Linked DNA regions of Homo sapiens. The protein of the gene in region 2 interacts with the protein of the main gene of each other region in a pairwise test. Each region holds a gene or a part of one and is shown on either strand. Other genes may lie near its edges.

The links.
Region 1: the proteins of MAGEC2 (region 2) and MNAT1 interact in a two-hybrid assay, tested with the Homo sapiens proteins (one study listed by BioGRID).
Region 3: the proteins of MAGEC2 (region 2) and P4HA3 interact in binary tests that used the Homo sapiens proteins (3 or more experiments, as listed by UniProt).
Region 4: the proteins of MAGEC2 (region 2) and GLE1 interact in binary tests that used the Homo sapiens proteins (3 or more experiments, as listed by UniProt).
Region 5: the proteins of MAGEC2 (region 2) and UBE2H interact in binary tests that used the Homo sapiens proteins (3 or more experiments, as listed by UniProt).
Region 6: the proteins of MAGEC2 (region 2) and SSX1 interact in binary tests that used the Homo sapiens proteins (3 or more experiments, as listed by UniProt).
Region 7: the proteins of MAGEC2 (region 2) and SSX2 interact in binary tests that used the Homo sapiens proteins (3 or more experiments, as listed by UniProt).

The regions. Positions count from the first base shown.
Region 1 is NC_000014.9:60,737,641-60,741,545, reverse strand, and holds part of MNAT1 (CDK-activating kinase assembly factor MAT1), read right to left. Parts: intron 1-3,905.
Region 2 is NC_000023.11:142,202,108-142,206,643, reverse strand, and holds MAGEC2 (melanoma-associated antigen C2), read left to right. Parts: upstream 1-1,353; 5' UTR 1,354-1,541; intron 1,542-2,188; 5' UTR 2,189-2,282; intron 2,283-2,590; 5' UTR 2,591-2,656; coding exon 2,657-3,778; 3' UTR 3,779-4,302; downstream 4,303-4,536. UniProt on the Homo sapiens protein: Proposed to enhance ubiquitin ligase activity of RING-type zinc finger-containing E3 ubiquitin-protein ligases.
Region 3 is NC_000011.10:74,273,236-74,277,140, forward strand, and holds part of P4HA3 (prolyl 4-hydroxylase subunit alpha-3 isoform 1 precursor), read right to left. Parts: coding exon 3,750-3,905; intron 373-3,749; coding exon 310-372; intron 1-309. UniProt on the Homo sapiens protein: Catalyzes the post-translational formation of 4-hydroxyproline in -Xaa-Pro-Gly- sequences in collagens and other proteins.
Region 4 is NC_000009.12:128,532,168-128,536,072, forward strand, and holds part of GLE1 (mRNA export factor GLE1), read left to right. Parts: intron 1-497; coding exon of another isoform or gene 498-524; intron 525-1,345; coding exon 1,346-1,488; intron 1,489-1,593; coding exon 1,594-1,784; intron 1,785-3,905. UniProt on the Homo sapiens protein: Required for the export of mRNAs containing poly(A) tails from the nucleus into the cytoplasm. May be involved in the terminal step of the mRNA transport through the nuclear pore complex (NPC).
Region 5 is NC_000007.14:129,837,793-129,841,697, forward strand, and holds part of UBE2H (ubiquitin-conjugating enzyme E2 H), read right to left. Parts: intron 1,544-3,905; coding exon 1,415-1,543; intron 1-1,414. UniProt on the Homo sapiens protein: Accepts ubiquitin from the E1 complex and catalyzes its covalent attachment to other proteins. E2 ubiquitin conjugating enzyme that transfers ubiquitin to MAEA, a core component of the CTLH E3 ubiquitin-protein ligase complex.
Region 6 is NC_000023.11:48,253,865-48,258,481, forward strand, and holds the start of SSX1 (protein SSX1), read left to right. Parts: upstream 1-1,527; 5' UTR 1,528-1,568; intron 1,569-2,186; exon of another isoform or gene 2,187-2,272; intron 2,273-3,357; 5' UTR 3,358-3,377; coding exon 3,378-3,446; intron 3,447-3,881; coding exon 3,882-3,996; intron 3,997-4,617. UniProt on the Homo sapiens protein: Could act as a modulator of transcription. Plays a role in spermatogenesis.
Region 7 is NC_000023.11:52,700,632-52,704,536, forward strand, and holds part of SSX2 (protein SSX2), read right to left. Parts: coding exon 3,866-3,905; intron 2,000-3,865; coding exon 1,950-1,999; intron 1-1,949.

The DNA.
Region 1 (3,905 bases), on a different chromosome or scaffold from region 2:
CTATTAAAAATACAAAAAATTAGCCAGACGTGGTGGCCCGTGCCTGTAATCCCAGCTACTCGGAAGGCTGAGGCAGGAGAATGGTGTGAACCTGGGAGGCGGAGCTTGCCGTGAGCTGAGATCGCGCCACTGCACTCCAGCCTGGGCAACAGAGCGAGATTCCATCTCAAAAAATAAAAATAATAAATACATAAATAAATAAATAAGCCAGGTGTGGTGCCATGCACCTGTAGTCCTAGCTACTCAAGAGGATGAGGCAGGAGGATCATTTGAGCCCAGGAGTTTATGATTGTGCCACTGATATTACATGGGTTAAAAAATTTTTTTAAAGTAAATGAACGGAAAAATGCACACTATCAAATAGTAAGCACAAGAAATCTGACAGTGCCAAATTATTATCAGACAGAATCTTCAGGAAAAAGCATATTACAAGAGACAAAGAGGGCCATTTCATAATGATAAAAGGAGAAATGTATTAGGAAGGCATAACAATCCCAAATATGTACCCAACAAGAGAGTTCCAAAATGCATAAAGTATGACAAAACTTACAAGAAAAACTGACAAATCTATAATCATAGTGGAGTAATTCATAAGATGAGTAGATAAAATAAATTAATAAAGATACAGAAGATCTGGTAATGCTATCAACCAAGATGGGTATGGTAATATGTACCACGTTTATAACTTATACTACACTACACCCAACAACCACAGAATGTATATTCTTTTCAAATGTACACTGATTGTTCACAAAGACAGGCCATATGCTGGACCATAAGCAAGCTTTCAGAAAACTTCAAAAGACTGAAATTTTATAGAGTATATCCTCTTATCACAACAGAAAATTATAAAATAATATATCTAGAATGTTCCTGTTCTAAATCTTCCACCTAAAATAAGTGCCTTTTCCTAATTTTCTACCCAGAGGGGGCTCTGTTTCCCAATTTGCACAAAGGTACTGAATAAGATCAGTATATTAAATGAGTTAACACCACTTATTATTCTTATCAACAAATAAATTCAAACTTAATCTGATAAAACTTTTAAACATAACTAACAATTTAGAGGAAATACTGAGAACAGAAGAACATATTTAACAATATCACAGAGATGCAATAAGCAAAATTCGGACTCTTCAGGATAAACTATCCAGTAACATCAGTAAATGAGAGAGAAATAGGAGAACAGAAAAAAAAGGGAAAAAAAGAAAGAGAAAGATGTTAAGTAACTATCACAAAACATTGCCTTTATATATCAAGATGGTAGGTACTTGATTTTGCTTATCTTGTACTTTGCGTCTCGTGCGTGATGAAAAAAGTAGATTTAGCACATAAAATTTCCAGAGACAGGTTTTGCCAAGAATGGTTGGGATAGAAATTAATTTTTTTTTAAGATGGAGTCTTGCTCTGTAGCCTAGGCTGGAGTGCAGTGGTGTGATCTCGGCTCACTGCAACCTCTGCCTCCCAGGTTCAAGTGATTCTCCTGCCTTAGCCTCCCCAAGTACCTGGGATTACATGCCCATGCCACCACACCCAGCTAATTATTGTATTTTTAGTAGAGACGGGGTTTCACTATGTTGGCCAGGATGGTCTCGAACTCCTGACCTCAGGTGATCCACCCGCCTCAGCCTCCCAAAGTGCTGGGATTACAGGCGTAAGCCACTGCACCCAGACAGAAATTAAATTATTAAAGGCTGTAGTTAAATGAGAATTAGATACCACTGCCTCCATCTAATTCTATATGCCTTCAGAATGGAAGGCCCATTTCTTGAAATAGGTGGCCTGATAAAGAAAAAAAATTACCATTTTCTGTAATTGAGACAATGTTCATCCTTGAACAGAAAAAATTAAAAAAAGAACATGAAATCCAATCTTCTTCTATATGCATACAATCAATTCATTTGTGCATTTGCTAGATTAAATTGATAAGTAGGGAAATATGCTTCTTCAATTGCTAGCAGCTAAGAGACAAAGGTATTTAATAATGTTTCACCTCTTTTCTCTCCTCTCTGCTCCTGTATTTTCTCCCATAAGTAAAACTCCTAGTTAATTTTTCCATAACCCTATAGTTCCTCTTTTATGAAGCACTACTCCTACTCACTTTATCACTTGCCTCCAAAAAGTCTTTGCTACTTGAGGACATGAAAAAAAAAAAAATAAGTTAATAAAATCCTGCGGAAGCCAGCCTTCAAGATAGCCCAATGATATTCACACTCTTGGTATTCACACTCTTGTGTGTACTCTCCCACATTATAACACTACAAAACACCAGAGGTGATGGTATATCACTTCTATCATTAGGTTTTAAAAGGCTCTACAGCTTCCAGTTCCCTTCCTCCCTCCCTTTCTCTCTTCTCCCATCCATCTCTCCAATCTTCCTTACCTCCGCTCATATCACTAGTTCTGGGAGAAGCCACGTCATAAGTAGCCCTATGGAAGAGTCCATGGGGAGGAACTGAAGCCTCCTGACAAGAGCCACATGAGTGACCTTGGAAACAGATACTCCAGGCCCAGTCAAATCTAGACTGCAGTCCTAGCCAACAACTTGATTACAACATCCTAAGACCGAGCCAGAATCATTCAGCAAAATAATACCTGCTCTTCTCAGACTAACAAGCATATTATAAAAATGCCTATATTCAATCCCATGAAATATATGCCATAAAAACTCAACAAACTATCAAAAAATTTTTCATTAAGAGCCAAAATGAGGCTGGACACGGTGGCTCACGCCTGTAATCTCAGCACTTTGGGATGCCAAAGCGGGTGGATCACCTGAGGTCGGGAGTTCAAGACCAGCCTGACCAACATGGAGAAACCCCATCTCTACTAAAACTACAAAATTAGCCAGAGGTAGTGGCGCATGTCTGTAATCCCAGCTACTCGGAAGGCTGAGACAGGAGAACTGCTTGAACCCGGGAGGCAGAGGTTGTGGTGAGCTATCACGCCATTGCACTCCAGCCTGGGCAACAAGAGCAAAACTCCATCTCAGGCCGGGCGCAGTGGCTCACACCTGTAATCCCAGCACTTTGGGAGGATCGAGGCGGCTGGATCACGAAGTCAGTAGTTCGAGACCAGCCTGGCCAACATAGTGAAACCCCGTCTCTACTAAAAATACAAAAATTAGCCGGGCATGGTGGCATGCGACTGTAGTCCCAGCTACTCGGGAGTCTGAGGCAGGAGAATCACTTGAACCTGGGAGGTGGAGGTTGCAGTGAGCCTAGATCATGCCACGGCACTCCAGCTTGTGTGACAGAGCAAAACTTCGTCTCAAAAAAAAAAAAAAAAAAAATCCAAGATGTTTTTCTTATCAGAAAAGCATCTGATAAGATGCTTTTAAACATCTTTTAAAATGCAAGATTTTAAAAAATAATATTAGCCAATATAGGCAAAGTTGTGTGGCAATAGGAATCTCCATACAGTTGTTGGTAACATAATTGACAAGATCTTTTTTTTTTTTTTTTTGTAAGATAGGGTTTCCCTCCTGGCTAACACGCTGAAACCCCGTCTCTACTAAAAATACAAAAAAATTAGCCGGGCGTGGTAGCGGGCGCCTGTAGTCCCAGCTACTCGGGAGGCTGAGGCAGGACAATGGCGTGAACCCGGGAGGCGGAGCTTGCAGTGAGCCGAGATTGCGCCACTGCACTCTAGCCTGGGCGACAGAGCGAGACTCCTTCTCAAAAAAAAAAAAAAAGGATAGGGTTTCCCTATGTTGTCCAAGTTGGTCTCGAACCCTCCCTCCTCAGCCTCCCAAGTAGCTAGGATTACAGGTAGGAACAACCATGCCTGTCTTGACATAATCTTTTTTGAGAACAACTGGGCCATATTTATCAAATTTAAAAGCCACAAACTCTGACCCAACAATTCTACTACTGGACATTACCTTGTGATTTTTACCTGTTATA
Region 2 (4,536 bases):
GAAGGTTCCAATACATGCTTATGAGAATGGCTAAAACCTGAAAATCTAAAATACTCAATGTAAGAGAGGATATAGAATAACAGAAATTCTCATTCCTTGCTAGTTGTGATAAAAAATAGTACAGGCACACTTTTAAGTCAGTATTTTATGAAGCTAATCATATGACAAATTGGAAAAGTTAAAAGTATAGGAACTGAAAACAGAAGACAGTTGCTAGGAGCTTTGTAGAAGTGCGGTGATTGACCTCAAAAGGGATGCACAGGAGAAGTTTAGGCAGGTGGAACTGGTCAGTATGATACTTGGTTGGTAGATATGGGAGTCCATGCATTTTCCAAAATACATATAACTTCACATTCTAGTTAAATCTGATGTGTGTATTTAAAACTTTAATCACGTATTGGTTTTTTAAAGGGTCACGGGTTGCTGAAAAGACAGTGGTTTTTTTCAGGGACTAGGATAGGAAAAGAAGCAACAATAAGGAAGCCTTTAACACAGGGTATGGGAGAGATGACACTAATTTCACTCACAGCAGTAAAGTGGAAAAACTTGGAATGGAATTTAGAGGTCGAAGGAACAAATGTTGCTGTCTGGACAGGAGAAGGAAGGAGTATAGGCTCTTTTAGGAGTCATACCTTGAGAAAGACAGAGGGGCATTCCCACCCCATTTCAGAGGGCAGTGGAGGCCTGCCTTAGGGCTAGGAGGCCCTATCCCACTGTGGATGGATGTGATTCTCCCTCTCTTGCACCTTGCAGGTCTCAGGGATGGGAGGGGCTTATTCGGAGGTGAAAGACTCAGATGCACAGGGTCAGGCATCCCAGGCAGTATCAGGAGTCCAGGCACAGCCTCTCAGGAAGGCTGGAAGGGAACACCCATGACTGGTAGTGCCCCTCCCCTGTCCCTGCTGCCAGCTCTGGAGGACCCCATCAGGGTCCCCAGATGTACAATTTTCTGACTTCCATTTTGAGAGTCAGCAGAAGGGGAGGCTGTTGTCTCTGAGGAGGGCAGCTTCAGTTAAGCAGAGAAAGAAGTCCCAGAACTGGCCAAAAAACAAGAGAGATGTGGAAGGACGGTGACCTCCCAACACGGAGGGGAGGCGCAGACTGCACCAAGCCACTCCCTGCTGACACCCCTGGAAAAAGGAGAGTGGGGTGTCAAGGACTGGGGAGGTGGGAGTGAAGAGGTCCGCAAGGCTTAGGGAGTGAGCAGGAAGGGTTGGAGGGCAGCTGGGAGGTGGGGAGGAAGGGATGGAAAAAAAGCAGAGAGGTGGGGGGTGGTTCCTCCTCAGAGAGGAGGCCCCGCCCCACATTGACGCTGCGTCAGCCCTGGACAACCACGGCAGGGTTCCCGGATGTGCTTTCCCGACGGCCATCTTGGGAATCTGACGGATCGAAGGCATTTGTGAGGAGGCGCGAATCAAGTTAGCGGGGGGAAGAGTCTTAGACCTGGCCAGTCCTCAGGGTGAGGGCCCTGAGGAAGAACTGAGGGACCTCCCACCATAGAGAGAAGAAACCCCGGCCTGTACTGCGCTGCCGTGAGACTGGTAGGTCCCAGACAGGGAAATGGCCCCAGAAGAAGGGAGGAGGTGCCGGCCCTCTAGGGAATAAATAGGAAGACACTGAGGAGGGCTGGGGGAACCCCCACCTCAGAGGGCAGATTCCCAGAGATTCCCACCCTGCTCCTCAAGTATCAGCCCTCGTAGAGCTCCCCAGTCAGCTCAGGCGGGGTGGCAGCCATCTTATTCCTGGGTGAGTGGCGTAGGGGAGGCGGAGGCCTTGGTCTGAGGGTCCCATGGCAAGTCAGCACGGGGAGCTGCCTCTGGTTGGCAGAGGGAAGATTCCCAGGCCCTGCTGGGGATAAGACTGAGGAGTCACATGTGCATCAGAACGGACGTGAGGCTACCCCGACTGCCCCCATGGTAGAGTGCTGGGAGGTGGCTGCCACCGCCCTACCTCCCACTGCTCTCAGGGATGTGGCGGTTGCTCTGAGGTTTTGCCTTAGGCCAGCAGAGTGGTGGAGGCTCGGCCCTCTCTGAGAAGCCGTGAAGTTGCTAATTAAATTCTGAGGGGGCCATGCAGTCCAGAACTATGAGGCTCTGGGATTCTGGCCAGCCCCAGCTGTCAGCCCTAGCAGGCCCAAGACCCTACTTGCAGTCTTTAGCCTGAGGGGCTCCCTCACTTCCTCTTGCAGGTGCTCCAGGAACCAGGTGGTGACGAACTGGGTGTGAGGCACACAGCCTAAAGTCAGCACAGCAGAGGAGGCCCAGGCAGTGCCAGGAGTCAAGGTGAGTGCACACCCTGGCTGTGTACCAAGGGCCCTACCCCCAGAAACAGAGGAGACCCCACAGCACCCGGCCCTACCCACCTATTGTCACTCCTGGGGTCTCAGGCTCTGCCTGCCAGCTGTGCCCTGAGGTGTGTTCCCACATCCTCCTACAGGTTCCCAGCAGACAAACTCCCTAGGAAGACAGGAGACCTGTGAGGCCCTAGAGCACCACCTTAAGAGAAGAAGAGCTGTAAGGTGGCCTTTGTCAGAGCCATCATGGGTGAGTTTCTCAGCTGAGGCCACTCACACTGTCACTCTCTTCCACAGGCCTGTTGGATCTCATCATCCATATCCCTGTTGATACGTTTACCTGCTGCTCCTGAAGAAGTCGTCATGCCTCCCGTTCCAGGCGTTCCATTCCGCAACGTTGACAACGACTCCCCGACCTCAGTTGAGTTAGAAGACTGGGTAGATGCACAGCATCCCACAGATGAGGAAGAGGAGGAAGCCTCCTCCGCCTCTTCCACTTTGTACTTAGTATTTTCCCCCTCTTCTTTCTCCACATCCTCTTCTCTGATTCTTGGTGGTCCTGAGGAGGAGGAGGTGCCCTCTGGTGTGATACCAAATCTTACCGAGAGCATTCCCAGTAGTCCTCCACAGGGTCCTCCACAGGGTCCTTCCCAGAGTCCTCTGAGCTCCTGCTGCTCCTCTTTTTCATGGAGCTCATTCAGTGAGGAGTCCAGCAGCCAGAAAGGGGAGGATACAGGCACCTGTCAGGGCCTGCCAGACAGTGAGTCCTCTTTCACATATACACTAGATGAAAAGGTGGCCGAGTTAGTGGAGTTCCTGCTCCTCAAATACGAAGCAGAGGAGCCTGTAACAGAGGCAGAGATGCTGATGATTGTCATCAAGTACAAAGATTACTTTCCTGTGATACTCAAGAGAGCCCGTGAGTTCATGGAGCTTCTTTTTGGCCTTGCCCTGATAGAAGTGGGCCCTGACCACTTCTGTGTGTTTGCAAACACAGTAGGCCTCACCGATGAGGGTAGTGATGATGAGGGCATGCCCGAGAACAGCCTCCTGATTATTATTCTGAGTGTGATCTTCATAAAGGGCAACTGTGCCTCTGAGGAGGTCATCTGGGAAGTGCTGAATGCAGTAGGGGTATATGCTGGGAGGGAGCACTTCGTCTATGGGGAGCCTAGGGAGCTCCTCACTAAAGTTTGGGTGCAGGGACATTACCTGGAGTATCGGGAGGTGCCCCACAGTTCTCCTCCATATTATGAATTCCTGTGGGGTCCGAGAGCCCATTCAGAAAGCATCAAGAAGAAAGTACTAGAGTTTTTAGCCAAGCTGAACAACACTGTTCCTAGTTCCTTTCCATCCTGGTACAAGGATGCTTTGAAAGATGTGGAAGAGAGAGTCCAGGCCACAATTGATACCGCAGATGATGCCACTGTCATGGCCAGTGAAAGCCTCAGTGTCATGTCCAGCAACGTCTCCTTTTCTGAGTGAAGTCTAGGATAGTTTCTTCCCCTTGTGTTTGAACAGGGCAGTTTAGGTTCTAGGTAGTGGAGGGCCAGGTGGGGCTCGAGGAACGTAGTGTTCTTTGCATTTCTGTCCCATATGGGTGATGTAGAGATTTACCTGTTTTTCAGTATTTTCTAAATGCTTTTCCTTTGAATAGCAGGTAGTTAGCTTCAGAGTGTTAATTTATGAATATTAGTCGCACATGTATTGCTCTTTATCTGGTTTAAGAGTAACAGTTTGATATTTTGTTAAAAAAATGGAAATACCTTCTCCCTTATTTTGTGATCTGTAACAGGGTAGTGTGGTATTGTAATAGGCATTTTTTTTTTTTTTTACAATGTGCAATAACTCAGCAGTTAAATAGTGGAACAAAATTGAAGGGTGGTCAGTAGTTTCATTTCCTTGTCCTGCTTATTCTTTTGTTCTTGAAAATTATATATACCTGGCTTTGCTTAGCTTGTTGAAGAAAGTAGCAGAAATTAAATCTTAATAAAAGAAAGCCCCACTGACTCCTTTATTTGCTGAACATTCTTTTAGTATTTGCTTGTGGAAGTCACTGTTAGTATTGGGGATACTAATAAAAGCATGACTTATCTCTACCCGTAAAACAGTAGAGTCTAGGAGCAGAAGCCATATTAAGAAGGTGGTAAGATGTTCTCTACAATCTAAAGAACAAGTTAAAAAGGGGCTGGGGAGGTGAGACTCCAGATGCAAGCCTTCAAGTATAAAGGTCTTGAGATAAG
Region 3 (3,905 bases), on a different chromosome or scaffold from region 2:
CTGTGTTGTTCAAGTCCCTCTATCTCTTGGCCTTCAGTGGAGCTCCACTTCCCATCCTAATCCACTGCCCATACCAAGGTCATATTTAGATTTACACACTGTCAGCCTCTTTCAGGGTAGAAACCTTGTCTTGTATTTCTTTACATCTCCTACAGTGCCTATCAAAAATGCTGTCTGAAATTCGCAAAATTCCTGGAGATTTTTGCGCTGAGTACCAGATAAAATCAATACGTGAAATTGCTTTGAAAACAATAAAATAAAGTAGAGCTATAGTCAGTCATGAAGTAAGAAGCCCAGAGCAATACTCACATAGATCATAAATGTTGCAACTCGGTTTCCTGACTTCATTCTGTAGAGGGGGCTGCTTGGTGACTGAGAAAAAAAAAAACAGAACATATTATTTTATGCAGATGGCACCAGAGGGACAGGCAGGATTCCACTATTAATACAAATAGAAGTAAAATGGGGGCATCAAAGATGGGATATAGTTCTGATATACACCTACTGGAGTATGTGCCCGTCTTTGCTGGCAGGTACTCAATACAATTTTTTTTTTTACTAATTTATTAGATACTTATATAAAAGAATTGTCTACTACCAAACAGAACTACTTGTCAGTAGTGAAAGTACTATATGAGGGGTTAATTGCACCTTTGAGTTCTCTGTGAAATATAGAAATTAATATATAAAATATTACAGACAATTATTCTGTAGAAATACCAAATCATAAGGCCAGAGTTCCAATTACTTGCTGAAGAGACATACTCTTTTTTTTTTGTCATGGAACAGTTTGAGATATGATTTATATTCCATAAAATTCACCCCTTGTAAGCCTACTGTTCAATGAGTTTTCCCACAATTGAAGTTTAGAACACAGAACACTTCCATCTGCTGAAAAGCTCCTTCATGCCAGTTAGGAGTCAATCCCTGCTCTCACCTCCAACCTCAGGCAACCCACTTATCTGCTTTCTCTCTATAGCATTCCATTGTGCAGATATATCAAAATTTGTTTATCCGTTCACCTGTTGACAGACATCTGGGCTGTTTCCAATTCTTGGTTTTTTTTTTGTTTTTTTTTTTTTGTTTTTGAGATGGAGTCTCACTCTGTTGCCCAGGCTGGAGTGCAGTGGCGTGATCTCAGCTCACTGCAACCTCTGCCTCCCAGGTTCATGCCATTCTCCTGCCTCAGCCTCCCAAGTAGCTGGGACTACAGGCGCCTGCCACCATGCCCAGCTAATTTTTTTTTTTTTTGTATTTTTAGTAGAGACGGGGTTTCACTGTGTTAGCCAGGATGGTCTCGATCTTCTGACCTCGTGATCCGCCTGCCTTGGCCTCCCAAAGTGCTGGGATTACAGGCATGAGCCACCGTGCCCAGCCCCAATTCTTGGTTATTACAAATAAAGCTACTATAAACTTTTCTGTACAAATGTTTGTAGAGACATATTTTCTTTTTCTTTTGGGTAATATACATAGGTGTGAAATGGCTGGATCATAAGTAGGTGAATCTTAAACTTTTTAAGAAACCATCAAACTTTTTTCCAAAGTGTCTGTATAATTTTGCATTCCCACTAGCAGTGTATGAGAGCTTCAGTTCCTCCACATCCTCACCACCACTTGGTATAATCTTATTTTATTGTAGCCATCATAAGAGAGTGCAGTGCTATCTCATTGTGGTTTTAATTTGCATTTCCCTAATGATGTTGAGCATCTTTCCATATGTTTCTTAGCCATTCATTTATCCTTTTTGGAGAGGTGCCTACTCAAATAACTTTCTGTCCATTAAAAAAAATTGAATTATCTTATTACTGAGTTATAAAAGTTCTATAGATATTTTGGATACAAGTTCTTTACCAAATATATGATTTGCAAATATTTTCTCCTAGTTGGTGGCTTGTCTTTTCCTTTTCTAATGATGTTTTTTGAAAAGCAAAGAATTTTAATTTGATAAGGTCCAATTTATCAGTTGTTTTCTTCTTTTATGGATCATACTTTGGTGTCATATCTAAGAAATCTTTGCCTAACCTGTGGTCACAAAAATTTTCTCTTATGTTTTCTTCTAGAAGTTTTATAGTTTTACATTTACATCTATGACCCATTTTGTGTTAATTTTCATATATGGTGTAAGGTAAGGGTGTAAAGTCATTATTATTTTGCAGATAGATATTAAATTGTTCCAATACTGTCTATTGAAAAGATTGTATTTTCTTCATTGAATTTCCTTGGCACCTTTGTCAAAACCAATTGATCATAAATGTGTTGGTTTGTTTCTGGACTCTGTTCTGTTCCATTGACATATGTGTCTCTCCTTACACTGGTACCACACTGCCTTGATTCCTGTAGCTCTATATTAAGTTTTGAGATCAGATAGTGTATGTCCTCCAATTTGTTCTTCTTTTTCAAAATTGTTTTGGCTGCTCTAGGTTTTTTGCATTTCCATATACATTTTAGGATCAGCATGCTAATTTCTACAAAAATAAACCTCCTGGAATTTTTATAAAGCTGGGGTTCAATTTATAGATCAATTTTGGGGAGGTCATTTTAATCCTCAAAAATCACTACTGGGTATCTACCCAAAGGAAAATAAAGTATTATATTACAGAAAAAACACCTGCACCCAGATATTTATTGCAGCACTATTCACAACAGCAAAGTCATGGAACCAACCTAAATGTCCATCGATGGTTGATTTGATAAAGAAAATAAGGTATATATACATAACAGAATACTATCCAGCCATAAAAAGAATGAAATAATTTCCTCTGCAGCAACATGGATGGAGCTGGAGGCCATTATCCTAAGTGAACTAACTCAAAAGCAGAAGATAAGATATTGCATGTCCTCACTTATAAGTGGGGGCTAAACAATGGGTACACATGGACATAAAGATGGAGGTAACAAACACTGGAAACTGCAAAATGGGGGAGGGTGAAAGGGGAGTGAGAGTTCAAAAATTACGTGTCAGGTAAAACATTCAATAGTTGGGTGATGGGTACACTAGAAGTGTGGTCCCCACCATTACACATGCAATACCCATATAACAAGTATGGCTGGGTGCAGTGGCTCACTCCTGTAATGTCAGCACTTTGGGAGACTGAGGTGGGAGGATCGCTTGAGCCCAGGAGCTCAAGACAAGCCTGGGCAACATAGCAGGACCTTGTCTCTACAAAAAAAATTTTTTTAAATTAGCCAGGTGTAGTCCTAGAGCTACTTGGGAGGCTGAGATGGGGGGATCACTTAGCCCAGGAGTTCAAGACTGCAGTGAGCTATGATGGTGCCACTACACTGCAGCCTGGGCAACAGAGCAAGATGCTGCCTATAAAGAAAAAAATAAATACATAAATAAATACGTAAATAAAAAACAAGCACATGTACCCCATGAATCTAAAATTTTAAAAAAATTATTTGCTATTATCAGCAAAGATGGCCAGTTGAGATCATGAGGCTAGAAGAGTTACTGGAGGAAGGACAATCCTCACTAGGAAGTCCCTGAGTGGAGCAGTCCGATGATTCCATGACAAGCCACATTCTTCCCTCACCAGCAAATTTTAGAAGGGAGATGGTGGCAGACAAGAAAATGAGTCAGCAACAATATGCTTGAAACTAAGGCTTTCAGATATTTCTGGAAAAAGAACCTTTGTTCTAAGATTTCACTTAGTATTCCCTGAGAGCCTACAAGAGCTCTGCCTCAGAGAAATAAATAATGCCCTGGCTCCCTACCCCAGGGGATTGGTCATTGACTCCACCATTACCGTAGCATGGTCAAAGTGAGGCTCATAGTGTCCTCCGATGCCATAGTTCACCACCTGCAGATACTCTGCATAGGGAGGCCGGACATCAAGGCCTGTGAGGGCAGCAATGCGGTGGTTGAGGGTCACCAGTTTTGGGTCAACAGTGTCCTTCAGCCA
Region 4 (3,905 bases), on a different chromosome or scaffold from region 2:
TCAGGACTTCAGGTAATGGAAAGTAATTCAGATCTGCTTTGCTTTTTTTTTTTTTTTTTTTTTTTTTTTAGGGAGGAGATGGAGTCTTGCTTTGTCACCCAGGCTGGAGTGCAGTGGCACAATCTCGGCTCACTGTAACCTGCGCTTCCTGGGTTCAAACGATTCTCCTGCCTCAGCCTCCCCGAGTAGCTGGGATTACAGGCACCCGCCACCACACCTGGCTAATTTTTGCATTTTTAGTAGAGACGAGGTATCACCATGTTGGTCAGGCTGGTCTCGAACTCCTGACCACAAGTGATCTGCCTGCCTTGGCCTCCCAAAGTGCTGGCCCAGATCTGCTTAAGCAAAAAAAAAAAAGCATTTATTGGAAAGATAAAGAAATATCCTACAGAACCCAGTGGCAGGAATGAGGTGAGGTCTCAGGAGCTAGAAACTTTAGTTCTTTTTTCCTCTCTCATCTCATCTGTCCTCTCTACATCTCCATTCTTATTTTATAGATTGCCGTTCTTTGGTCTTCATGGCAGGTACGCAGCCCCCACTGCTTGTGAGTGTATGTGACACAGGGCCAGCTACCTCAAGGAAGTGACTCTTAGTTGACTGACTGGCTCAGCTTGACTGCCTCTAATCTAACTGTAGCTAGTGTGGGGGTGGAGCACACAAAATCTTTGGTACAAATATAGCTGTTACGAATCCACTTCTGTGTCTCTGAGGACGGAAGAAGGCAAGTCCTGAGAAGGGGGCATATCATCATGAGCTGGTTAGATCCTTTAGAAGGTTTTTCCTAGAGATGTGACTAACTCCTCTAGAGATACCAACCACAGTCCATGGGGTCTGTAACAAAATGTAACACCTCTTTCTATACTGTTTATCCCTTCATTTTATGTGTACAGTAAGGGATACTGTTTATCCCTTCATTTCTGTAGGGCAGCACAGCTGGGTTTTTGTAGATGCTTTGTAATTACAATGATGAAACAGGCTGGGCATGGTGGCTCACGCCTGTAATCCCAGCACTTTGGGAGGCCAAAGCGGGCGGATCACTTGAGGTCAGCAGTTAGAGACCAGCCTGGCCAACATGGTGAAATCCCATCTCTACAAAAAAAAAAAAATACAAAACTTAGCCCAGTGTGGTGGCGGGCGTCTGTGATCCCAGCTACTCAGGAGGCTGAGGCAGAGAATTGCTTCAACTCGGGAGACGGAGGTTGCAGTGAGCCAAGATTGTGCCACTGCACTCCAGCCTGGGCAGTAGAGTGATACTGTCTCAAAAAAAAAAAAAAAAAAAAAAAAAGGAAAAGAAAAAGAGATTGATCTGTGGTTATATCTTTTAATTTCTCTCTATCATGCTCAGGCTCAAAACTGAAGGAGATCTTTGACAAGATCCACAGCCTGCTCTCTGGAAAACCTGTTCAATCTGGTGGGCGCTCTGTGTCTGTCACACTTAACCCACAGGGGCTGGACTTTGTTCAATACAAACTGGCAGAGAAATTTGTGGTGAGAAACCTTGTTGCTAGAGGTATGGGAAGCAGAGGCTGGTGTACAAGATTTCAGCCTTTTTCTGGTATTAAGTTAAAATTGTACCCACCTCTATGTTCTCAGAAACAAGGCGAGGAGGAAGTGGCCTCTCACCATGAAGCAGCATTCCCCATTGCAGTTGTGGCATCCGGGATCTGGGAGCTCCACCCCAGAGTGGGGGACCTCATTCTTGCTCATCTACATAAGAAGTGTCCTTACTCTGTTCCTTTCTATCCCACTTTCAAGGAGGGAATGGCTTTGGAAGACTATCAGAGGTAAAGTTGTTTTTCTCCCTACTCACTATCCCTAGAGTGATTAATGAAATATAAATAGAATTGGAATTTGTTTTTCCCTCCTCACAGCTCCTATTACGTACCTTGAATGTTCTATCAGAAATATAATGTCTTTCGGCCGGGTGCAGTGGCTCATGCCTGTAATCCCAACATTTTGGGAGGCCAAGTTGGGTGGATTGCCTGAGCTCAGGAGTTTGAGACCAGCCTGGGCAACATGGAGAAACGCCATCTCTACTAAAAATACCAAAAATTAGCCAGGTGTAATGGTGCACACCTGTAGTCCCAGCTACTCAGGAGGCTGAGGCACGAGAATTGCTTGAACCCGGAAGGCGGAGGTCGCAGTGAGCCAAGATCGCACCAGTATACTCCAGCCTGGGTGACACAGCAAGAGTGTGTCTCAAAAAAGAAAGAAAAAATATATATACATAGTCTTTTATGTAAACTGGAGAGCCTTTGGGATTTGTGAACTTAGGTGCCAGTAGTCAATGTAGTTTAGTGGAAAGGATACTGGGGTCTTGGAATTTTATCCCTGCTTTGTCATTTAATACCTTTGCAAAAATGGACAAATCATTTAGTCTTTTTGAGCATCTTTTCCTGATTTTTAAATGAGGGTAATGACATCTATTACCTCCTGTGAATTTACCTCATGGCTTACATGAAGCTCAGATTTGATGATGGATATGAGTGCTTGGTAAACAAAGTATTCTACAGATGTAATAATATGTAATAATATATATACATATTTTTTATTTTTTTTATTTTTTTTTGAGACAGCGTCTCGCTTTGTCACCCAGGCTGGAGTGCAGTGGCGTGATCTCAGCTCACTGCAACCTCTGCCTCCTGGGTTCAAGTGATTATCCTGCCTCAGCCTCCCGAGTAGCTGGGACTACAGGCGCCCACCACCACGCCCAGCTAATTTTTATACTTTTAATAGAGATGGGGTTTCACCATGTTGGCCAGGATGGTCTCGATCTCTTGACCTTGTGATCTGCCCGCCTTGGCCTCCCAAAGTGCTGGGATTACAGGCGTGAGCCACCACGCCCGGCCTGTAATAATATATTAATAGTAATGCTGAGTGTAATAATATATTGTTATTTTTTAGCCATAAAAAGTAATCTCTGGGCCAGGTGCAGTGCCTCATGCCTGTAATTACTTTAACAATTTGGGAGGTTGAAGCAGAAGGATCGCTTGAGCCCAGGAGTTCAAGACCAGCCTGGGTAACATAGTGAGACCCTGTCTCTACAAAATTAGCCAGGTGTTGGCTGGGCGCGGTGGCTCACGCCTGTAATCCCAGCACTTTGGGAAGCCAAGGCCGCCAAAGCGGGCGGATCACCTGAGGCCAAGAGTTTGAGACCAGCCTGGCCAATATGGGGAAAACCCGTTTCTACTAAAAATACAAAAAATTAGCTGGGCATGGTGGCAGGCACCTGTAATCCCAGCCACTCAGGAGGTTGAGGCAGGAAAATCGCTTGTACCCAGGAGGTGGAGGTTGCACTGAGCCGAGATCATGCCATTGCACTCCAGCCTGGGCAACAAGAGTGAAACTCTGTCTCAAAAAAAAAAAAAAAAGGCCAGGCGCGGTGGCTCACATTTGTAATCCCAGCACTTTGTGAGGCTGAGGCGGGCAGATCACCTGAGGTCAATAGTTCAAGACCAGCCTGGCCAACATGGTGAAACCCTGTCTCTACTAAAAATACAAAAAATTAGCCAGGTGTGGTGGCAGGTGCCTTAATCACAGCTACTCGGGAGGCAGAGGCAGAAGAATCGCTTGAACCCGAGAGGCGGAGATTGCCTGAGATCGTGCTATTGCTTTCTAGCCTGGGCGACAAGATGGAAATTCCATCTCAAAAAAAAAAATTAGCCGGCTATGGTGGCATGTGCCTGTGGTCCTAGCTACTCAGGAGGCTGAGGCGGGAGGATCACTTGAACCTGGGTGGTGAAGTTTGCAGTGAGCCTTGATCATACCACTGTACTCCAGCCTGGGTGACAGAGACTCTGTTTCCCAAAAAAAAGCAATTTATCTCTAATTTGTCACCCTTATTTTGGCCTTGTCCCAGTGAATTTTTTCTTATTTCTTTTTTTTGAGACACAGTCTTACTGTTA
Region 5 (3,905 bases), on a different chromosome or scaffold from region 2:
TTTTCTGAGATTACTAAGGAAGACAAAATGATAGCCAACATGAACATTTCCGAAGGCTAGGGGTCCGTACGCTGGAGTGAGCCATTCTAAGATAAATGTAGGCTCGGTTCTTTTTGTAAATGGGACTATAGCAGACATGTACTGAAACAGGGCTACTGCTAAATTGTTGAGACAGAATGCATATGTGAACTAGAGAAATATACTCTGCTCCAAGATATCTGTGGTTTGCAGACATTGCTAAGTGATTCCTATGTCAAAATTTTAATATAGTCTCATAACAGCACTTTATCTGGCTGAAACTGACTGCCTTTTTCTTCAAATACATGTTTGCTTAGCTATATATTTTGCTACATAAATTAGATATTAATTTGCAAAGCACTTGAGATCTAATTAATTATAGTAAATTTATTTCTGCTTTATCTCAACAACAGCTCCAAACAATACCCTATAGAGACCTTGGAAGAAGAATTAGAAAACAAATAGAAGAAAAGCTATTGTTTCATGAATAGTCCCTGTTTGCCTCATACCTGCACATTTCAGAGTGAAGACCTGCACATTCAAGCTCTGGTAAATTACTTCTACTGCCACCTCTTGCAAATGTACCTCAGAGAGGCCACACATTTTGAGGAAGCAAACATTCTGGACTGCTATGCAGATAGGCCCATCATGTGAAAAACTGGCTAGATACTAATGCCTGCCATTGGTTAAAAGCAGCAGGTATATTTCACAAACTTTGAATTCCTTTGCTTCTTGGTGGAGCTTCATGTATCTAGACTTTTCACTATGAAAGTTCTGAAACATACACAGAGGTAAAATGGAAAATCCAATGAACCCAGGTGGAGCTTTAGATTTTTTTTCTTTTTTAAAGACAGAATCTTGCTCTGTCACCCAGGCTGGAGTACAATGGCACAGTCTAGGCTCACTGCAACCTCTGCTTCCTGGTTCAGGCGATTCTCTTGCCTCAGCCTCCCGAGTAGCTGGGACTACAGGCGCGTGCCACCACACCAGGCTAATTTTTGTATTTTTAGTAGAGATGGGGTTTCACCATGTTGGCCAGGCTGGTCTCGATCTCCTGACCTTGTGATCCGCCTGCCTCGGGCTACCAAAGTGCTGGGATTACAGGCGTGAGCCACCACGGCCAGTCGCAAACTTATCTTCATTTAAATGAAACTCATATCCCATCAGCACGTAAACTGTTTTAAGGATGGGAAAATAGGATTCTAAATCGCAAAGGATGAGCAAACTGGTGCTACTGCCACCCGAGGTTGGTGAGCACTACTTCAGCCCACAGCTGTCTCTTTTTAGGCCTAAGAAAAAGTATTAGGAACTAAGTAATTTAAGAAGGACTTTTAATGACTGAAGCCCAACAGATTTAAGTTCTTTTGTCTCCAGGTTAAACTACCCATCCTCTTACCTTTAATTTTCTGCTTGTATTCTTCTGGTCGGTGGAGGTACATGGCTGCAGCGTCACCATTGAGAGGATCTATGGGGTTAGGATAGGCCAATAACTGAGGCAGGAAGGACTCAAATATATTGGTAAGATCTGAAAAACCAAACAAACATGTCACACATGGGAAATGCAAGTTCACCTAAAATTCACTTGCATTCAGTAGTCAAGCTGCTTACCTTCTTAGATATTCACACGGGGATGATTCTCCATACGAGTGTGCTCTATTACATGTGACTTGTATTACACATTCATTTCAATACCAATTTAAACATTTTAATTTTAATTTGAAGAACGAGATAAAGATATACCTGACATTCACTTTGAAGGACAATTTTCCCAATTCTATTTCACTCTATTTATATGGCTATTTCACACAGCCATTTTCTACAGCTTACAAAACCCCCCACTCTGAAAGGTATTCAGATGCTGGGTCTTAAAAGAATTGAAGACAGTTTTTGTGGGGTTTTTTTGTTTGTTTTTTTTTTTGAGACAGAGTCTTGCTCTATTGCCCAGGCTGGAGTGCAGTGGTGCAATCCTGACTCACTGAAACCTCTGCCTCCATGTTCAAGCGATTCTCCTGCCTCAGCCTCCCAAGTAGCTGGCACTACAGGCACCTGCCACCATGCCTGGCTAATTTTTGTATTTTTAGTAGAGACGGGGTTTCACCATGTTGGTCAGGATGGTCTCAAACTCCTAACCTCAAGTGACCTGCCAGCCTTGGCCTTCCAAAGTGCTGGGATTACAGGTGTGAACCACTGCGCTCAGCCTTGAACACAATTTTATAGGACTTGACATTTAATTCAATTCTTGCAACTTCTAATGGAGGTAAATATAACCAATTTTTCAATTATTCTGGGTAATGAGGATAGGAATCTATATGGACCACATAAGACTACAAATATTCATAAGACAGATAAGCACCAATCTACTGCATTTATTTATTTAAAAAAGTTTTTTTTTTGAGAGAGGATCTCACTCTGTTGCCCAAGTTGGAGTGCATAGGTGTGATCATACCTCACTGCAACTTCAAACTCTTGGGCTCAAGCCAACCTCCCAGCCTCAGTCTTCCAAGTAAATTGGACTATAGGCATGTGCCACCATACCCAGCTAATTTTTTTTTTTTTAAATAGAGACAGGGTCTCCTTATGCTGCCCAGGCTGGTCTTGAACTCCTGGACTCAAGAGATCCTTCCATCTTGGCCTCCCCAAGTGCTGGGATTATAGACGTGACATTTATTAACTCCTTTCTTGCCAGGCATACACAGATGATATCTACACACAGTTAGCAAACAACAAACACCTGCAGTTACCCAGCGTTTTAGAAAAGCAGGCCCTGAGAACCTGGGTATAACACAACCCACACACCCCATAGCTCAGATATGCTGTAACTTCCACACTCTGCTCCTCAGTGAACTGCAGCACCCCTGAGAAATGGAAGGACATGAGAATGCTTCCATGTCTCTGCCCCACTCCAGCTGCTTTGTCATGTTTTATATAAAACATTCCTGTTTCTGGAGACAATGCTGAAGTATACTAAGTAGCATAAAAAACTACTCATTAATTTAGTCAGCTCTTTCAACCAATTTTGCTTTTAACAATGGGCGCTCCTTTGCAGTATTACAGATGAATGCTTTGCCAAGCCACATTGCTTGAGATTTGTGGTTCTCAGCCAAGGGTGATTTTGCTCCCCATGGAATTTGGCAATGTCTAGAGACATTTTTGGTTGTCATATCTAAGCGGTGCTACTGGCATCCGGTGGGTGAAGGCCAGGGAAGCTGCTAAACACCACAATGCACAGGACAGCCCCACAACAAAGGATTATCTAGACCAAAATGTCAGCAGTGCTGAGGTTAAGAAACCCTGATCTAGATAAAAGCGGTAGGCAAACCTTTTTGTAAAGGGTCAAATACTTTTAGGCTTTGCAGGCCACATATGGTCTCTGTCATAACTACTCAAAACTCAGCTCTGCCACTGTAACACAAAAGCAGCCAAAGTATAGGTCAACAAATCGATGTGGCTGTATTCCTATAAAACTACATATACAAAAACAAGTACCCAAGGTCTGCCCAACTTTGCTCTAGAAAATCTTACCTATAAGAGGTGGCTCTTATCACTGTAAGGTTAAGAAGCTGAGCAGTTAGAGACTAATCTAGAGCTGTGTTACTCAACCGAACTTTCTGCAGTGATAAAAATGTTTTATATGTGCTCACCTAAACCAATAGCCACTAGCCATAAGTGGCTACTGAGCACTCAAAATATGGCCAGTGTGAATAAGGAAATTAATTTTCAGTTTATTTAATTCTAATTAAATTTAAATAACCACACATGGCTAGTAGATCCTGTATTGGACAGTGCAGGTCTAGAGAATGATGGGCTAGAGGGTCCCATGACAGCTACCACGTCCTGTTCTCACACACCAGGTATTGACACAGAGCAGCTCTGCCTTACAACAAAAG
Region 6 (4,617 bases), about 94 Mb from region 2:
AGACTTTGGACTCAATTCTATCTTGGGGGTGAATCCCAGCTCTGTCACCCACTGACTATGTGACTTTGAGCAGACTGCTTAATTCTCTTGAGCCTCAGTCTCAACATCTGCATACTGGGGATGATAATAGTATTTAACTCCAGAGAAGGTTGTGAAAATTAATGGGAAGATGCACATAAAAGGCTTTGTGCTGGGCTCAAGGGCCATTGCTCTGTTCCTGCCCTAAGAGAGCTTGCTGTAATCCTGGGAGGATCTTAGAGAGATCAGGGCTGTAGGTGGAAAGCCCAGAGAGGAATGGGGACTTGTTGGAGGTACTAGGGATGGGGGTAGGGGAAACTTCTTAGACAAATTGACTTATGAGCTCCCTGATGAACACAGTGGGCCCTAATTACATACTCTTTTTAATACTATTATTATAAATATTATTAATATCAATGGGTAAAATATATTTCTGCTTCTTTGGTCTTTTAGAAAAAAACATATATGGAAGTGTAGAAGTGTTTTTTTTTGTTTAAATTTCTTTTTTAAAAATTTTTTATAGAGATGGGGGTCTCACTATGTATCCCAGATTGTTCTGGAACTCCTGGCCTCAAGTGATCCTTCCACCTCCTGCCTCAGCCTCTCAAAGTGTTGGGATTACAGGCATGAGCCACTGGGACTGGCTCATTGAAATTTTTCTTTCTTTCTCTTTCTCTCTCTCTCTCTTTTTAAAGACAAGATCTCGCTCTGTGGCCCAGGTAGGCAGGAGTAGCCAGATCATGGCTCACTGCAACCTCGTACTCCTGGGCTCAAGCTATCCTCCTACCTCAGCCTCCTGAGTAACGGACTACAGGCACACCACCCCACCTCGCTAATTTTATTTATTTTTTTTGTAGAGAAAAGAGACAGGGTATTGCTCTGTTGCCCAGGGTGGGGTGCAGTGGCATGATCATGGCTCACTGCAACCTCTGCCTCCCAGGTTCAAGTGATCCTCCAGCTGTGGCCTCCCTAAGTGCTGGGATTACAACCGTGAGCCGCCGCACCGGCCCAAATTTCTTACGTCACTACAGAGTTCCTAGGAAAAAATCCCATACCTGAAAAAGATAGAAACTGACAGGAAGGATTTGAGATGATGACCTGCTTCATATACACTCCTTATTAAAACTGGATAACAATGCACCACCGAGGAGGTGGGGAGGGATAGGAAAAATGAAAAGAGAAAATCAGCGCATGCGTACTCTGATTTGGGAAGACTCCAAAGAGAAAATCAGAGCATGCGTACTCTGAACTTGGAGTAGCCAATCCCAGGGGATGCTTTAGGCGGGAAAGTCAGAGTTTCTGCCTCCATTTTGAGAAGGTTCTGTCCCTAGAGCCTAGACTGATAGACCCCACATCAGCTTGGCTTGTCCCGCCTACTGTTCTGACTTCTGATTGGCCAGATGGAGTTCACTAACTGCCCTGATTGGTCCATCATCCTGGAGCAATGACATTGCAGAATATTTTCTCCTCCTCCAGCCACACTTTGTCACCAACTGCTGCCAACTCGCCACCACTGCTGCCGACCTCGCAACCACTGCTTTGTCTCTGAAGTAGGTTCTCTTTAAGGGACACCCTAGATGGGCTAATCGGGGCAGATAGAAAAGGAGGAAGCCTCTGTAGGGCCGTCAAGTGCTTGGGGTTCCGAAAATCTTGAGGACTGAAAGACAACTAATGCCTTTCAGGACGATCATCATGGAGGATCCTCCCGCCTCGGCCTTGGGTCTACAGGCCTGTATTATCCCACCCCTGTTTTTTTTTTTTTTTTTTTAGTAGAGACGGGGATTTGTTATGTTGACCAGGCTGGCCTCAACCGCCTGGGCTCAAGCAATCCTCCCGCCTTGGCCTCGGGACTACAGGCACGAACCACCCCACCCTCACTAATTTTTTTTATTTTTTATTTTTTTAGTACAGACGGTTTTGCTATGTTGGCCAGGCTGGCCTCTGCCGCCTGGGCTTAAGCAATCCTTCCGCCTCGGCCCTGGGACTACAGAAGTGCACCATCCTGCCCATGCTTTTTTTTTTTTTTTTTTTAGTAGAAACCAGGTTTCACTATGTTGGCCAGGCTGGCCTCAACCTCCTGGGCTCAAGCGATCCTCACACCTTGGCCTCAGGACTACAGATGTGTGCCATTCCGCCCCTGCTAGTTTTGTTGTTGTTGTTCTTTTTAGTAGAGACAGGGTTTCCTTATGTTGGCCGAACTGGGCTTGACCTCCTCGGCTCAAGTGATCCTCCCACCTCGGCCTCGGAACTACAGGCAAGAACCACCTCGCTGATGTTATTATTTTTGTTGTTATTATTAGTAGTAGAAATGGGGTTTTGCTATGTTGGCCAGGCTGGCCTCAACCTCCTGGGCTCAAGAGATCCTCTTGCCTCGGCCTCGGAACTACAGGCGAGCACCACCCCGCCCCCACTAATACTTTTTATTTTATTTTATTTTTTTTAGTAGAGGGTTTTTCTAGGTTGGCTAGGCTGGTATCAACCTCGTGGGCTCAAGCGATCCGCCCCCCCTTGGCCAAAGAGCTGAGATGTTATAGGCCTGTGCCACCGCCCCCAGCTAATTTTTTGTGTGGTTGTTTTTTTTTTTTTTTTTTTTTTTTTGTAGAGATGAGGGGTTTGCTATGTTTCCCAGGCTGGTCTCAACCTCCTGGGCTCAAGAGATCTGCACGCCTCGGCCTCCCAAAATGCTGGGATTACAGGCATGAGCCACTGCGCCTGGCCGATTGCTGCAAATTGAAACACCCCACATTTTCTCTAAGTGATGGCAGGCTCTTGTAATCTCAGAGATTCTAGCTCTCTTCCTTCTAATAATTTACAAATAACCCAGTAATAGCTTCTAAATCTGTTCATATTAGTGAAGGTCATTTCTCTTCAACAGAACAGAACCCCCCCATCCCTCTGCCTGATCAGATCCATCACCAGAAAGACCACGTTATGTCTGGGACTCACTTCCCTCCCTTTATTTATTGAGTGGGGGTGTCAGAACGCCCCCATTCAATAAAATTACACAGTCACGTCCCTGCCTCCCCAGCAAGGGTCTGTACATCTTTCAGGGTAAGCCTAGCCCCAGGGAAACTACTAACAACACTAGCCAACCCCCTCCCAAAGACTCAAGGCTGCTAGGAAACCTGTCATCCCCAAGCAATACTTCTCCCAGAGACTCCAGGCTCCCTGTTTTCATCTGACTTCTCTCCATGTCCTTACCCATGGACAGGTAAGCCCCGAATGGAGAAATGCAACCCCTAATTCCAGGTGACTGAGTGTGGCCGGGCTTCACTGATTTCTCCCTCCATAGGACCAAGGGTCCTGTAGCTAGAAAGTCTCAGGCTGTTTCTCTTGCAGGTGAGACTGCTCCTGGTGCCATGAACGGAGACGACACCTTTGCAAAGAGACCCAGGGATGATGCTAAAGCATCAGAGAAGAGAAGCAAGGTGACGTGACCTGGAGGGGGCAGAGCAGTGGTCCAGGGGACAGAGTAGGGTGACCAGGTTTCTGAGGAGGGGAGGACAGAGGTACTGGGGACAAGGAGCAGGGTCTCGGGGGAGATCTGGACCCTTGGGAGCCTCCCACCTGTGTTCTGTCATCACCTAGCATCCCTGGAGACAAGTCTCTGACCTTGCTCTACATTTGGTAACTCTCAGTCCATTCTGGAAGGTGGGAAGAGAGCCAGACAGCAGCATTAAAGCCCTAATGTGTGCCACGGGAGAAGCTAGGGTAGGTCCCCCATGGTCTCTCAGTTAGCCATGGCATCAACCAGGACGGATTATCATCCTCACTTCCCAGATCCAGCACACAGGAAGCGGCTCCAGCTGAATGGCAGACATACCTAGCTGAGTCACTGACAAATTTTATTTTATTTTTTTTAGGCCTTTGATGATATTGCCACATACTTCTCTAAGAAAGAGTGGAAAAAGATGAAATACTCGGAGAAAATCAGCTATGTGTATATGAAGAGAAACTATAAGGCCATGACTAAACTAGGTAACAGAAAGTTCTAGGAACAGACAAGTCTGGGGATACATGAGCATCCCTTTTCCTGCTTTGGCTACTTCTTAGGCTGCAGAAAGTACCCCACATTTTCCTTTTGTGCAGGGAAAAATCGCAAGGCAGCTTCTGGGGGTTCTGCTCTTCTGTATCCTGTCAGAGCTGAGGGCAGGGACTGGCCATAGTGGAGCTTGTACCTGGACCTTGCACTTTTCTCTCCCTTAGGCGTCTGTTCTGATCAGCCCAGCTGTCTCTGTGGCATTGCAGCACACCTCCCACCCTACCTTCCTCCTCTCAGCTTGTCTCTTTCTCTCTCTCTCCCTTTTTTTTTTTTTTTTTTTTTTTTGAGTCAGAGTCTCACTCTGTCACCTAGGCTAGAGTGTAGTAGTGCAATCATAGCTCAATGCAGCCTCGAACTCCTGGGCTCAAGCAATCCTTCTGCCCAGCCGATGGAGTAGCTGAGGATATGAGCACATGCCTCCATGCCCAACTAATTTTATTTTATAATTTGTAGATATGGGGGTCTCTCTATGTTACACAGGCTCATCTTGAAATCCTGGCCTCAAACAATCCTCCTGCCTCAGCCTCCCAAAGTGCCGGTACTACAGACATGAGCCA
Region 7 (3,905 bases), about 90 Mb from region 2:
TTTTGAGCTTACAAAGGGTCTTCACATGCATTAGCTTATTCAATGTTCTCAACAACACTGGGAGAGTTACACAGGCCTAAATTAGGAGAAACCTGGGAGGGGAGGTTAGAAGGGAAAGGAATGGCCTAAGTGAATATGGTTTCCAGGGATAGAATGCTTATCTTCCCACTCTTTTAGGACTGACATTCTTGCAAACAGCAAAAATCTCCATGTAATTGAGAGTGTGATATACAGATGATTTGGAGAAGAGTAGCATTCTAAGAATTCACAAGGTCTACAAAGGGAAGAGGTTCTGTAAAATACAAGGGATCCCATATAAGCTTCTAGACAGCTGCTGGGAGAGTAAATGTAAAAACATAGGGAGGCGACAAAACACTGCTGGGAAAGATGGTGTGGGGAGATGAATACAGGGAAGGGAGAGGGAAAGAAATGGTTTGCCGAAATTAATCTAGGCAGCAAACAAAGCAGTACCAGATATGACATACTACCCTACTGGGGCACCGACATTCAATGTGGAATTCAGTGAGGTGGTACCCATACCAATTCTGGTTGCATTGGGATGTGTCACTGACCAACAATCTTAAGCTACTTTTTTTTTTCTTTCTTTCTTTCTTTTTTTTTTTTTTTTTTTTTTTTTTTGAGACGGAGTCTCACTGTGTCGCCAGACTGGGGTGCCGTGGCATGATATCGGCTCAAGGCAACATCCGACTCCCGCGTTTAAGCGATTCTCCTTCCTTAGCCTCCAGAGTATCTGGGACTACAGGCAGGCACTACCACGCCCCGCTAAGTTTTGTATTTTTAGTAGAGACACGGTTTCACCATGTTGGGCAGGATGGTCTCGATCTCTTGACCTCGTGATCTGCCCGCCTCAGCCTCCCAAAGTGCTGGGATTACAGTCGTGAGCCACCGCGCCCGGCTCTTAAGCTACTTTTCATTCAGCTTCCTCCCTTATGAAATAGTGAACCATACATGTCAAATAGCCTACAGTAAAGTCCTCTCTGAGCTTGTAAACACTGTTTAAATGTCGTAATAATAACAATTAATACCTTTCACAATCCTTCTTTGAATTCAGTCTCCACACTGGCAACCCAACTCCCAGATCCCTTTACCCTCCAAACCAGAGTTGAATCTGCACTTGTGGGATCACTCATTCAGGGGCCTCCGAGGGATCCCCTGGGCTGGGACTGGGCCTTCCCAGATGCCCCAGGTGCAGACAAGGCACTCAAGGAGCTCACAGTAGGGAGGGGCCAACAATCAAAGTGATTCCTAAGCCATGCAAGTGGCCCCAGCAACACAGCAGAGACCAGATGGTCCTTCCTGTTGAGAGAGTGGGTGTCTCATTGGAAGCACCAGCAGGCCCTATGGGGTGAAGCCCTAGTGAGCAACATCTGAACTTCATAGACAAATGCAAATGTGAATGAGCTTTAAATGGCTTGGAGCTCTGGATTAGACTACCACTGCCACTGCGCCCCAGGAAAATTCTTTAACATCTCTGTACCACGATAGCCTCATTTTATTATTATGTTGCTGATAACTATGATCTAAAACATGAACTATAATTCTTTACTTCCATTTCATGGACCAGGAATCTGGAGCTCAGAGAACTTAGAAGATTTGTGTCAAGTCACATGGCTTTCATATGGATGAAAACTGAAGTGTGTGACTCATTATTATTTGGAGATAATAGAAACAATGTCTTCTTAAGGATTAAATAAATTAATCCATGTGAACTGCTTGAAATAGTATCTGGCATCACTATGAAAACAAAAGAAGTATTAACAATCGCAACTGTTGGTACTATCAAGCCGTCGGTGCGACATCAGGTGTTGTGATAGACATGGGGAGAAGAAGGCAGTGAGGGCATTTTTGATATTCTCCCACTCTTACCAGTGTTCGCATCCGTGGAGGGACAAAGGTTCTCTGGTCCTTTAGATCTGAGAGACACTCACCTTCGGGGAGATTCCCTGGAGCCTGCCGAAAGTCATCTGAGGACGTTCAACTGAAAGAGAATACATCAGAATTTTTCTTTGTTGGTAAAGGTTTCCAAACTCTAGAGAGACTTCTGTCGCATCAGGGTATTCTGCAGCAGAGGGTTATGAGTCCACTCATTGTTGAGGAGTTATTTCAGATTTGCTTCTGAATTATGTTTAGTCATGGTTGGTGCATTTATCTGTGGCATCAATTCAGAATTTTCCATCTCATGGTTTATCACATGGGGACTACACCCCATCACAGTCTCATCTTATTCCATTACATATCTTTTACTTTTTCCCAAATAATTAAATTGATTGGTTAGGAATCTGAACTGTATCCACTCAAGATGTGCAACAACTGAAAATCATTGTACACTTCAAATGGGTGAATCTTATGGTATGTGAATTAAGCTGTTAAATGTGTGATGAACCATGGATGATTTGGTCCAGTGGCTCTGAAATATTTTCAGTATAAAGACACTCCTTTACTGTCAAAACTTGGCAGATACTCAAGCACTGGCTTTTCAGGTCTCTTATAGTGATTGCGGGAGATTGTAGAATCTGGCCTGTTTAGTTGGCGAGTAATAGGTCTATTGGAGACGGTTTGGACATTCTGACCTTGTCTTATAATTATGTTGTCAGAGTAGAAGAGCAAGTAAATACATATGTCCCCTTTATATTCCTGAAATGTACAAAGCTCTCTACCCAAGAACCTATCTTTTTTTCACCCTATGTTATCTCTGCTCTCTGACAAGTGGGAAAGCTCTCTGTGTGTTGGATAAGGGATCACTCCTTCAAACTCTCTTCCAAGCTCATTACGGAGAATCAGGGTTCTTTGGGAATGAGAAGACTATTTGGTTTTGATAAACCAATACAGAGAAACAGCGATCTTTATTACATAATGTGTTCATCACCCTCACTCCTAAGATACCTATCCAATACCTACATGCTGTTAATGAAACAAACTCTGGAAGTTTTTGGCGGATCTACAGTTTTAACACTTTCTTTCTTTCTTTCTTTTTTTTTTTTCACTTGTAGCATTTTTTTAGCAGTCCTTTGATTCATTAACGGTGCTTAGGAAGAACAACATGTCGTTTAAAAAAGAAATATTTCAAACACACAGAAAAGTATGGGGAATAATATTGAGTCCAGTCGGATCTCAACATTACCCCACAGCTATGTTAGGTCTGATTTATTTATTCAGAATATTAGAAAAACTGCAAATAGGCCGGGCGTGGTAGCTCACAGTTGTAATCCCAGCACTTTGGAAGGCTGAGGCGGGTGGATCACCTGAGGTCAGGAAGTTTGAGACCAGCCTGGCCAACATGGTGAAACCCCGTCTCTACCATAAATTAAAAAATGAGCTGGGTGTGGGGGCACGTGCCTGTAACCCCAGCTACTCGGGAGGCTGAGGCAGGAGAATCACTTGAACCCAGGAGGTGAAAGTTGGAGTGAGCTGAGATTGCCTTATTGCACTCTACCCTGGCCGAGAAGAGTGAAACTCCATCTCAAAAACAAAAACAAACAAAACACACTATCAACAAGTCACAGCTGAAGCTGTCTGTGCCGCACTCAGTAATCCCTGCCCGCCCTCCCTCCCTCCTCCACTTACAGCCAGTCACCTTAATTTGATGGCTTTTTATTCACATTCATGTTTGTATACATTTACCATTTACTTATTATCCATAAAATATATATTCTTCTTTTGCATGTTTTAAAATTTTATATGAATGGCCTCTGTAGTTAACTTTCTGCATGCAATTTTTTTTTTTTTTTTCACTCAGCCCTGATGTGTATGAGGGAACAAATGCCTGAGGATCTTTCTCAGGTAGCTGAGCTGAAAAGCAGCTGGGCTTGAGGAGACCCTTTCCAGCCCCTTCCCATCTACTCACCCTGATTCCCACGGTTAGGGTCATTATCCAAATCATTCCC